Regions from separate parts of the Homo sapiens genome. Here region 1 is linked to region 2. Evidence: fine-mapped expression QTL. Tissue or cell type: nasal epithelium. Region 2 holds a variant in brackets; the other region holds the start of a gene. All regions are shown on one strand. Distances are from middle to middle.

Region 1 (6,010 bases), 49 kb before region 2:
GCTCCTGATAGCATTTAATTATTAATTTTATTAAAAGTTGTTTTATTAAAAGTTCTCCACTTGAGAACAAGTCTTTTTAATAGTGCATGATTAAAAGAGAAGTACACATAAGACATGTCTGCCTCATACTGAAGCAAAATGGTTGCACTGATGCAAAGCACTTGTGTGATTGAGTTGCCAATTGAACAAGTCACAGAGCATCATTTTTACTTGAATGACAGAATGAAGTGAGCCTGTCTCTTCAAGGAAAATAATTGATTGTATCTACTTCCAATAATAAAGTTCAAGTTTTTAAGCTAAAATTAGAATTCAAAAAACCCATATCCCGCTTCCATGAGCTTGAGTGCTTGTCAATAAAGACAGACTTCTCTGATGAGTTTAGTGGTAATTCTAACAAATGTTATTTTTTGATATTATATAATGAAATGATATTAGAAACCAAGATCTGGGGGCAAGATATGCTCGTTGCATAAAACGAGTGAACATTTGGAAGAGCTGCATAACACAGTGGACCAACATTTTCAAATGACTAATTAATACATGATGGTATAAAATCATGCATTTATTAACGATCCATTCAAAGTGAAAGACCAATCGATATTAATGTAACAGAGTATGAAAAGTCTATAGATACAGTTTTAGATTCCATATGGCAAGTAACCTTTAAGAAACTACCAGTTACAGGGCTGGGTGCAGTGGCTCACACCTATAATTCCAGCACTTTGGGAGGCTGAGAGGGGAGGATCGCTTGAGCCCATGAGTTTCAGACCAGCCTGAACAATGTAGGCCCAACCTCGTCTCTATAAAAATAATTTAAAAATTAGCCAGGCACAGTGGCATGTGCTTGTAGTTCCAGCTACTCAGAAGGCTGAGGCAGGAGGATTGCTTGAGTTCAAGAGTTCAAGGCTACAGTTAGTTATGATCACATCGTTACATTCCAGCCTGGGTGACAGAGGGAGACCCTGCCTCTTAAAAATAAAAAAAATAGAAACTATCGCTTGTAGAAGAATTTTGATGTCATTTTAAAGACAAATAGCCACATTTATTTGAAAAGACAAAATATTCCTCTCATTTGCAACTGTCTGTGTGAGGTTGCATGTTTTCATATACTTCAATGAAAACAACATAATGCAAATTATGTTGCAGTGAATGCAGATGTGAGAATCTTGTGGTCTTCTTTTTTTTTGTGGAGACGGAGTCTAGCTCTGTCGCCCAGGCTGGAATGCAGTGGTGTGATCTCGGCTCACTGCAACCTCTGCCTCCCGGGTTCAAGCGATTCTCCTGCCTCAGCCTCCAGAGGAGCTGGGATTACAGGCACCTGCCATCACGCCTAGCTAATTTTCGTATTTTTAGTAGAGACAGGGTTTCACTGTGTTGGCCAGGCTGGTCTCGAACTCCTGATCCTCCCGCCTCGGCCTCCCAAAGTGCTGGGATTACAAGCATGAGCTACTGTGCCGGCCAAATCTTGCTGTCTTCTAGTAGGCTCATTAAAGAGATTTGCAAAAATGTAAAACTATGTTACTCCTCTCACTGAACTTTTATTGCTTTGAAGAACATTATTTTTTGCATAAAAGTATGTTAACATGTAATGTGTTTTATGGTCATTTAAAAATGATTAAATAAATATTTAAACATTTTATGTTTTAATTTCTAATGTGGTAAATATTGATAAGCATAACCCATATCAACAAATGTTCTTTGGAATGTTCAACAAATTTTAAGAGGATTAATGGTCCCTAAATCAAGAGTTTCAGAACCACTGTTCTAGGGCAATTTACCTGAGTTGGATTTTATTTACAATTCATTAAAGCTTATACACTATGAAGACATGTTAACTTGCATGTTTTAATCTAGAAGAGGTGCAAATCATTTCTATACACTAGAAATGATAATCTATGGTTTTATCATCTTGTAGAACACCAGCCAGCTTTGTATCCAACCTAATCTTACTCTAATGCTTTGTCAAAATGTTTAATCTCCACTTCCTCAAAATGCTTTTGAACCAGCTTTACCATATCATTGTTAATTTGCTGAAGAAATCTTGGATATGTGTTCATGATATATTTGTATGAGTGTCATGCTTTTTACTTTTTTAAGATTATACTTTGACAGACACTAACAACATATGTATATATGACGTATATATGTATATACATACTATACACACACATACACGTACATATTTCACAACGATGGCATACGGATTCTCTATTCTGAATCTAGCTCTTTCCACTTAATATACGTTGAATGCACTCTTTATTTTCTTCGTCATCTTGACTTTCTTCTGATGCAACGCCCTGAGTTTAACTCACAGATCTGTTAATAAGAAACCCATACATCCCACATATACGCATTTTCCCGTCTCTGGCTCACTAACAAAAAGCTTACCCTAGCCCCATCTTTAACCATAGGTTCCAAATACCCAGGCTGGAATTCAACACAGAAATAAGAAAGGATCCACAGACAACGTGACAAAAATCCGAGCAGTCACGTGACACTGCACGCCCCATAATTTTTTTCCGCCCGCTTCAAACATGGCGGTCAAGCCCTCGCAGCGCAGCAGAAGCCACGGGCTTCCTTCCGCGTAGGAACCTCCTTGCTGCCCTTGTCGGGCTCTTTTGTCTAAGACCACCTCAAGGCAAAGCCCGTGGGGCAGCTGGGTCTGGGGAAAACAGCCCGGGGCCGCGGGGGCCGAACGAGCACGGACCGGAAGTTCCGCAGCCGCGCCGTCCGGCGGAGCCGTTGGCTGCGGACGCCGGAAGTGGCCAGTCGGCAGGTCTGAGGCGGCGCTGTGTGTGTGAAGCGTACCTAGGGCGGGAGGCGACATGGAGACAGGGGCGGCCGAGCTGTATGACCAGGCCCTTTTGGGCATCCTGCAGCACGTGGGCAACGTCCAGGATTTCCTGCGCGTTCTCTTTGGCTTCCTCTACCGCAAGACAGACTTCTATCGCTTGCTGCGCCACCCATCGGACCGCATGGGCTTCCCGCCCGGGGCCGCGCAGGCCTTGGTGCTGCAGGTGAGGCGGGCGGGCCTGCGGTCTGGGGAGCCGCCGCCCCCGGCCTGCCCTGACTCCTGGCGCCCGCTCCTCCAAGCTCTCCCAGCCTGTTTCCTCCTTTTCCTGGTGTCCTGGGGTTGAGCTTGTGAGAATGGCTTCAGTAATTTGAAGCGCGGATTGGATGTCAGCTTATTCCGCTGAGGTGTTCGCTCCGGACGTCCTGAGGTTTCAGAAGTAGTAAGCCGACTGTTAAGAGCCCTACTCAGCACCCGCCAGCGCGTACCCCTCACGGTGCTGGGGGCCGCTAGTCAGGGAGCGAAATCCATGCAGGCCAGACAGAAGGAAGGACATTTACAGCAACAGAAACGTGCATGCCCCAGAACTACCAAAGACTTGAGCTGGCGGGGATGACGGAGGCATTGTGTTGATCAATGGGTGTGGTCGCTTGTTTGAAATGTGACTTCCCAGGTCAAAGACTGTCAATGTAGTGCTTATTAAAATTTCTATTTGAGCTTAATTCCGTACCCTCCAGGTTAAGTTTATTGTATGTTGGAAACGCTGTCAATACTCATTCAGTGAAGTTGACTGGGCACTTTTGAATGTAGTGGTAAGCAACCTTTTGCTGAATGTAGTTTACACTCTTAGTTGCCGCAGGTGAGGGTGATACGGGTGTTTAAGTAATGGTTTCTCTCTCCTTGTGACACAGTTAAAGAGAGAAAACCCAGAAAGTAATAGAAAACTTTTTAAGGGCAATTATTTGATGGAGCCCATTGTAAAGAAAGGAAATAGAAATGATGGTTGAGAAGTGAAGTTTTTATAAGAGAGGTGGGACTTCTGATGAGATTAAAAGAAACTATTCAGCCAAGTATTAAGCCTATTTGTAGAAACCCAAGAAGATAGAAATGCTGATGATACCTCCCTCAGTTCTCTAGATGTTACAGTTTATAAAATGCTTCAGATGTTTCCTCCTGAAGTCTTAATGCATGCTGCAGGTTGGTAAGATGTTACTTTCCTCAGCAGAAGCCAAAGCTTTGAATGTCTTGGTAGCTACCAGGGTAATAGGGCCAAACGAGGAATGGGGTTCCATTAGGATTCAATTTCAGAACTTAAGGCTATTCCTCGTCCTTGTCAGTGGCATAAGTGCCATCTTAGTGATGAGAGAGCTGTTGGAGGTGGCCTTTAGCAGGATCTTATGGCAGGTTAATGAAGTCTTGCCATTTGATCTTCAGTGTCTCTGTGAAACAGATAAGTTTCAAGTTTACGTACCAATTCAGCAAGGTTAAGTGATTTGACCAAGAACACACAGCCAGTTCACCGTAGAGCTGAAACTAAAAATTTCATTTTGTGGATTCCAAATCTTCCTGTTCTGTTGTTTAACCATTCCATAGTAGGATGAGAACACTTTTGTCTAGATTGATTGTAGTTTGCAGAAAGATGTGGAGGAGAAAGGAGTATATACTGAGTAATATGTATAGTATCAGATGTTTTATATTCTGGGGTCGTTATCTTATTTAACCCTTAATATAACCTGAGAGGTTGGTCTTTGTTTCACAGATGAACTGACAGAGCACTCATTAACCTGGTAACTCATTTACCTGGTAACACCTCTTACAAGACACTTCCATAGGTTAGGATTTGGTGACCAGTCTAATGAAGTAGTGGAGATGGGGAGCAGGGATGGAGGAAGGGGAGGGATGGGTCAAAGATGATCCAAGGTTTCAACTTGGGTGACTGGAATAGTGATAATGCGTTAACTGAACTGTCACCTGGGTTTAGGGGAAAAAGTTCAGTTTTAGACAGGTTGAACTTGAAGTTGCAGGTAGGAGTCCCTGCCCATAGGCTATTGGAATTACTGGACTAGATCTTTTGGGAGCTAGAGCAACTGGAGTGGTCCGAGGGAGAGAGAAGAGCCAAAGGTGAAGAACAGGCCTTGGGGAATAATCTTGGTGGAGAGCAATAAGTTTCACAGAAACCAAGGGGACAACAGTCTCCAGCAGATGCTTAAGAGAGGTGTCATGTTTTCTGGAAGTGGTTCTCAACCATCAGCATCGCTTAAGGAACTTTTTTCTTTCTTTTTTTTTTTTTTTTTTTCCTGGAGATGGAGTCTCACTCTGTCGCCCAGGCTGGAGTGCAGTGGCATGATCTCAGCTCACTGCAACCTCCGCCTCCTGGGTTCAAGCAATTCTCCTGCCTCAGCCTCTCGAGTAGCTGGGACTGCAGGTGTGCGCCACCACGCCCGGCTGATTTTTGTATTTTTAGTAGAGATGGGGTTTCATCATGTTGGCGAGACTGGTCTCAAACTCCTGACCTTGTGTTCTGCCTGCCTCGGCCTCCTAAAGTGCTAGGATTACAGGTGTGAGCCACTGCGCCTGGCCAAGGAACTTTTAAAAGCACATATTCCTGGATATTTTGGTTGGGTAGATCAGGGTGAATCCTGGGAACCTGTTCTTTTTTTTATTTTTTTATTTTTTATTTTTGAGATGGAGTCTCATTCTGTTGTCCAGGCTGGAGTGCAGTGGCGCAATCTTGGCTCACTGCACCTCCTCCTCCCAGGTTCAAGTGATTCTCCTGCCTCAGCCTCCCGAGTAGCTGGGTTTACAGGCATGTACCACCATGCCTAGAGAATTTTTGTATTTTTAGTAGTAGAAATGGGGTTTCACCGTGTTGGCCAGGCTGGTCTTGAACTCCTGACCTCAGGTGATCACCCGCCTCAGCCTCCCAAAGTGCTGGGATTACAGACATGAGCTACTGCACCTGGCTGGAACCTGTTCTTTTATCCACAAAAGCTCATTTGACAGGAGGTTTGTAAAGGTGATTTCAGTATTGACAAGGGTTTTATTGTGGGGTGGGACAACACTGAATGAGACTGAGTGACTTGGTACCAGCATAACATTATTTCTTCGTGGTAGTAGGTGATCTCCTGACCTCCCCACTCCTACTCATCTGCCTCTTAGGGTTTTTTTTTTTTTCTGTCCCTAACTTGATGGCATAAGACTCCTTCCTGGGGTCTGCCT
Region 2 (6,010 bases):
ACTTACGGCACAGGGTCTCACAGAGGGGAGTGGGAGCTTCTCCCAGGCCTACAGGACTCAGCATTACTGATAGTGGGTGCGTGCTAATTAACGTTAAAGTTGGGGTGTTATGTAAGTATTCAATTTGTAGAGGAGTTTTGCTCTGTCAAAGTAATTCTTTGCTTTACCAAAAGGACTTAGTGTAAGATTCTATTAAATAGCAAACTCGAGTTTGTTGAGGTTTTCTCTTTGTGAATGTATATAAATGCTGCACTTGTGTGAGGCTTCTCAGGGATTGGGCCCTGTCTCCCAGCCAGAAAAGCTTTCTGTTCTTTACATCCACCTTCCCCTGTCCCCAGGCCTGGGACACCTCGGACAGGTCTTGGAGGGAGCAAACCTTTGTGATTATCTGGATGCTTTCTCAGAAAGAAGAGGGGCAGAGGGGCTGCTTTACTTTTTCTGGCTTTCTCTTTTTAGATTTACAGGCCAAGGAACAGGTGATAGGATGCCTCCTATCCTATCATCTGTTGATAACCTGTGAGATGAGAAGGTTAAAGTGGCGGGCAGGGACCCTGAGTCTGTAGCCCTCCTTGCACTGGCCTGAGCCTTCTCATTCCAGAAATTCTGTTCTCAATACAGCAAACCTTCGGTTTTGCTCATAGAAAAAGCTCTAGCCTTTTCACATGATAGCGTCTTTTGAAGCTGAGAGGTATCCAAATGCATTAGTCTTAGATGAACACACCTGGAATCTCACTTTTATGAGAATTTCATAGACTATACTCTTGAATTCCAGTTGTACATTTTTGCTTGCAAACACAGGCATTTCAGAGTATAATGAGAGGAGGCTGGTGCTCATAAAGAAGACTGACTTTACAGTAAACCACCTCCCAGGAGAACTGAAGATGGGGCTTGAGCTGAGGTGGGGTCTCTTCTCCACTATCCCGAGCAGCACCTGGGCCCCAGGTCTTCACCTAGACAGTCAAGGACCTCAGCCTAAACAGCATCCAGCTCTTAGAAGTCCTGTGAAATTGGGCCAGGCACTGTGGGTCACGCCTGTAATCCCAGCATTTAGAAGGAGGCTGCGGCAGGTGGATCACTTGAGGCCAGGAGTTCGAGACCAGCCTGGCCAACATGGCGAAACCCCGTCTCTACTAAAAATACAAAAATTAGCTGGGTGTGATGGTGCATGCCCGTAATCCCAGCTATTGAGGAGACTGAGGCAGGAGAATTGCTTGAACCCGGGAGGTGGAGGTAGCAGTGAGCCAAGATGGCGCCACTGCACTCCAGCCTGGGCGACAGAGCGAGACCCCATCTCAAAAAAAGAAAAGAAAAAAGAAAAGAAAAAAAAAGATTTCTTGTAAAATTGAAAACAAAATTCAGACTTTGGCTACTTGAATCTTGTTTAATGTAATAGGAAAGCTGATAATTTAAAGGTAACAAGTTGTGGAATGTCTTCTTTAAGATTAGCATGCAGTCTCATTGTACCTGTTACCTGTTCTTTTTTTTTTTATATTGAATGTGTTCAAAGCTCATCCCACCTGTATGCAGAGTGTGTTAGAAACTGTGCTGGATGTGGTTGTTCTCTTTCTAGAAGGTAGGGCTCCCATGACAGCCATATAGGTTCTCTTGGTTGCATAAGTAAACATAAATAAACCAGTAAACAAAATGCCTGCTTTCTGTGTGAATACGTTGTCATTTGATGTCATGGTGTTAAGTATGAAGGTGCTATAAAGAAAAGGGGAGGCCAGGTGCGGTGGCTCACCCCTGTAATCCCAGCACTTTGGGAGGCCAAGGTGGGTGGATCACGAGGTCAGGAGATCGAGACCATCCTGGCTAATACGGTGAAACCCCTTCTCTACTAAAAATAGAAAGAAAAAAAATTTAGCCAGGCGCAGTGGTGGGCGCCTGTAGTCCCAGCTACTCGGGAGGCTGAGGCAGGAGAATGGCGTGAACCCGGGAGGCGGAGCTTGCAGTGAGCCGCGATAGCGCCACTGCAGTCCGGCCTGGGCCAAAGAGTGAGACTCTGTCTCAAAAAAAAAAAAAAAAAAAAGAAAAGGGGAGAGTCCGCCCCTCTTGTAGTTAGGGAGGAAGTTCAATTTTGTTAAAGACTTGAGGGTAAGAGGAAAGTAATTCAATGAGTGAGCTGAGACAGAAGATGAATGAGGCGAGGTGAGCCTCCATCTTGTCACTTGTCCCCTCCCATCTTCAGCCCTCGTGGGGCTGAAGTGATTCAGCCTGAGTGTCCTTGGCCCTGCCCTGGGTCCCCCAGGTGCATACTCTCCTGCATGTGCTTACACCCTCAGGCTTGCCTGCAGTCTCCATGCTGGTGCCCCCAAACAGCCCCTGGAACTACTTCTTTTGGCATTCTGCAGTCTACTCTCCATGTGGCAGCTGTGCATTGACCTTTTAAAACAACCAAATAACATTGTTCCCTGTCCCAACCTTGCAGTGATTTGCAATCACTTTTTAATTAAATTCTGAACTCTGTTTTAAAAAGCCCTATGCTGATCTTGGCTAGTAAGATAGCTTCTCCTCTTTGATGATAACAATATTATTTGTATTAATAATCTACATCAGTAAAAATATTAATGATGGTGACAGTGATGACTGCAGCTAACACTTACTCTGAGTC[G/A]TACACTGTTCTGAGCATTGTATCTATTCACTCATTAACCCCAGGAACATCTTTGAGGAAGGTACTCATGTGCTCCCATTTTGTAAGTTTTATAAATGTGAAAATGGAGATATGAACCCAAGGGCACAGTGAGTTGGAGGCAAAGATGAGCCCTGAGCCAGTGCTGTGGCTGTGGATCAAGGAGTTTGTGTGGGACACTGTCTAGGCTGCTCATCTCTGTGGTCTTCATAGCTGGCCCTGTCTTGCCATTTATCAGAGTTCTGTGTGAATGTCCAGCTCCTCCCAGGGGCCTTCTCTGTTGACCAGAGGCTCTGAGAGCCACTTAATCACTTTTGATTAACTCCAAGTTTGTAAGTCCCACGTTGTTCCCATCTGTGTCCTGGGACCTACAACAGTAAGGTTACCTGGGCCAGTACTCTTTGAGTGGCAGGTGGGGCCGGCTCTGATGTGTGGGCTAGCTATGGAGCCCTGACCTGAAGCCTGGGATCCAAGTGTGGGTAGTCCTAGCTGCGAGGGTGGCACAGAGAGTCCAGAGACTGAACAGAGGCTGGGCAGGGCGGGTAGACATGGCGAGTCTTTGACTGGGCTGTATGTAGGGTTTCTGATGCTTCCATACTCCAGGCAGAATAAATTGGTGCTATTGTTGGCGGGAGCAAAATTGGACAATGTGGAATTCATTTCTCCCTGGAAGACTGGGTGGTTCTTGGTACTGAAAGTCCTCCCAGGATATAATATCTTCAAGAAAACAAAAGATAACCTCACTAGTCATATCAAAGTAGTTTAGTCTAAGAATCCCTAAAAATCCAGTGTTGTCATGCTATGAGTAAAGCTAAGAAACCAACATGACAGTGCCCTCCACATACTGACTGTTGTGAAAACACGTCTTGTTATTTTTGGAAAGTCCTCTTGGTAGACCACTAACATTTTCGCCCCCAAAACAGCAGGAGCAGTAAATAACAACCTTCTAGATAAATCAAATGGGAAAGCATTGCCAGAATTTGCTATATCAAGTGCTGTGAATAGTGGCACCCAGCAGGGAAATTATGGAGAGAAAAGTGCTTTTATTTGCTTTTCAAAGTTGGTGGGACTGTGGGAATATGGGAGATGGGAAGAAAAGGAGGAAAAAGAGAAAAATACTGTCATCTTGAGTTGAAAATGGGTGCTAAACCTTTTTGCTTAGGACTGTGATTCAGTATCAAGGGAAGGAAACTGTTAACTCAGGTATTACTAATAGCCTCATGTTGGTGAGAGAGAGAGCTCACATGCAAGAAGACTAGGTAAGAGCTTATGAGTCTCACAACAGGCTAAGAATTGGGATCATTATTGTTCCCATTTTATAGATGAGGAAATTGAGGCTTTAATGAGATAGAGGAATTTGCTCAGATAACACACCTAGTATGAGCTGAAGCCCAGGATTCAAACTATGGGCTGGCTTCAACCCCATGGTCTGAATTGTCACAGCTGCAGACTTAAACCTCCTCCCCTTTCCCTCTCTTTGAGTGTTAGTTGGCATGATATATTTGTGAAAACTAACTAAAACCAGAAAAATCGAAAAAAAAAAATCCTGTGTCAAGTTAGTAATAATGATCACAGGCTTTTTTTTTTTTTTTTTTTTCAATTTTTCTGGTTTTCTCACTAGTTAGTGTCCCTTTTCTATTCCAGAATTAGGTCCAGGAGTCACCTTGCATTTAGGCATTATGTTCTCGTCACCTTCAGTCTGTGGCAATTTCCATCTTCTTTTGATTTTCATGGACGTTCACACTTTTGAAGAGGCCAGGTATGTTGTAGAATGTTCCCAATTTGGGTCTATGTAGTGTTTTCTTATGATTAGACTCAGGGCTATGGATTTGGAGAGGAATACCACAGAGGTGTCTTGTCTTTCTCATCATGTCACATTGGAGGTACATGATGTTAACATGAATTATTACTGTGACGTTTGCTTGGATCATGTGGCTGAGGCTGGTTGGCCAGGTTCCTCCAATGTCATGTGCCCGTTGTCCCCTCTCTGTACCCTGTTCATGAGAGCCACTAAGTCCAGCCCCACTGAAGGGCGGGGCATTAATCCTGCTTCCTAGGAGGATGGAGGAGTTTCAAATTATTTGTTAAATTCTTAGCATATGTTAAAACCACTACAAGGAATTGATAAATATTTTGGGGGAAGATACTGACTTAGAGATTATGCAAATATCCTGTTTCCTTAAGGTCCTACTGATGTTAGTTAGCATCATCAGTGGCTCTTGGCAATTATGTTTTAATGGCAATTTCCTATTTCCCTCATTCCTTCTACATTTTTAATTGGACTTCCATTAGGAAGATTTGTCCCCTTCCCTCATTTGTTCATTATAATTTATTCAGTTACTTATATCAGTATGGACTCATGGGTGGTTCATTTATTCTTTGCTACTGTATTATTTATTTTGCCCCCCACACTGTTCCAGCTCTGGCCATTGTGGCTTCTGAGTTCTTTGACATCTTTGCATCCCCCTACCCCCTCCCCAACTGTTTTTTTTTTTTTTAAGCACTTCCTTACTTTTTGGCACTACAGGATTCTCTGGGTTTATCTTGTATTTTCTCTGTTCCAGTCCTAGAATCAGCCATTGTCCAAAGGAATTGTCCAGGGAGCCCAATTCCCTTTATTGAATGGTATTTAGAAACCAAGATCTGGGCACTCAGAGGGCACGTGGCTCCTGCTTCTAGGCCCTGTCAGCAGACCAAGCCAGGACATGGATGTGTGTTTACTACCCCACTGTGACACATACCTCTTTTTTACCTCTCTACCTGGATGTATAGGAACTAAACATGAGCTGTCACCTGCATTTAACAACCTCTTTTAATAGGTGAGTTCTTTGTCATGGAGTAGATGTGTCCCTGACAAATTGTTGGCCAACAGAATCCTGTGTCCTCACTTCTGTTGTTGCTGTGGTTATGAGCCCCCAGTTTTTCACCTTCTTCCAATGATGATTGGTATGTCCTTCTTTCCCCCAGGCCACCCGCTCTCACTGCTCAGTGCTCACTCGCTACTCCTCCTCCTGCTGTATGTTTTTGAGTTAGTCATCCTCATGCACTGCTTGTAATTGCTGTTGTGGGCCCCTCTGTTAGTTCATTGCCTCACTGGCCTCCTCTTCACCGAGGTGTAGCAAGAACTTCTGTTCTTACCTCCTTTTCTATGAATGTGATAGGTTTTTATGGCCAGTGGCTTTTAAACTTTGGCTGCAACCTGTAGTTATAGTGAGAAATACATGTTAACAAGGCTTCCAGGTATGCACGTACCTGCATAGTGGCAGTTTCACAAAACAGAGCTTGCTCTTTTTCTGGCAGTGTATCTTGCGTATTTCATTCCATTTTATTCTGTTCTGCTCTGCTAAGGAGATTTTATACCTCCCCTTTGAAAAATACTGT

Evidence for each region. PIP is the estimated chance that this variant, and not a neighbour inherited with it, causes the effect.
Region 1: it holds the start of NUDCD3, and the variant in region 2 is fine-mapped to the expression of NUDCD3 in nasal epithelium (TOPMed, PIP 0.98).

The regions. Positions count from the first base shown.
Region 1 is chr7:44,487,416-44,493,425 of GRCh38, reverse strand. It overlaps NUDCD3 (NudC domain containing 3), which reads left to right and starts at 2,768. Exons shown (of 6, transcript NM_015332.4): 1 at 2,768-3,017. The coding sequence starts at 2,826. RefSeq lists silencers at 825-951, 3,017-3,186.
Region 2 is chr7:44,438,713-44,444,722 of GRCh38, reverse strand. The region is part of intron 2 of NUDCD3 (NudC domain containing 3); the gene reads left to right. Among named protein-coding and RNA genes, the nearest start is that of NUDCD3, 49 kb to the left of the region's middle. The variant G/A (reference allele first, on the strand shown) is at 2,612.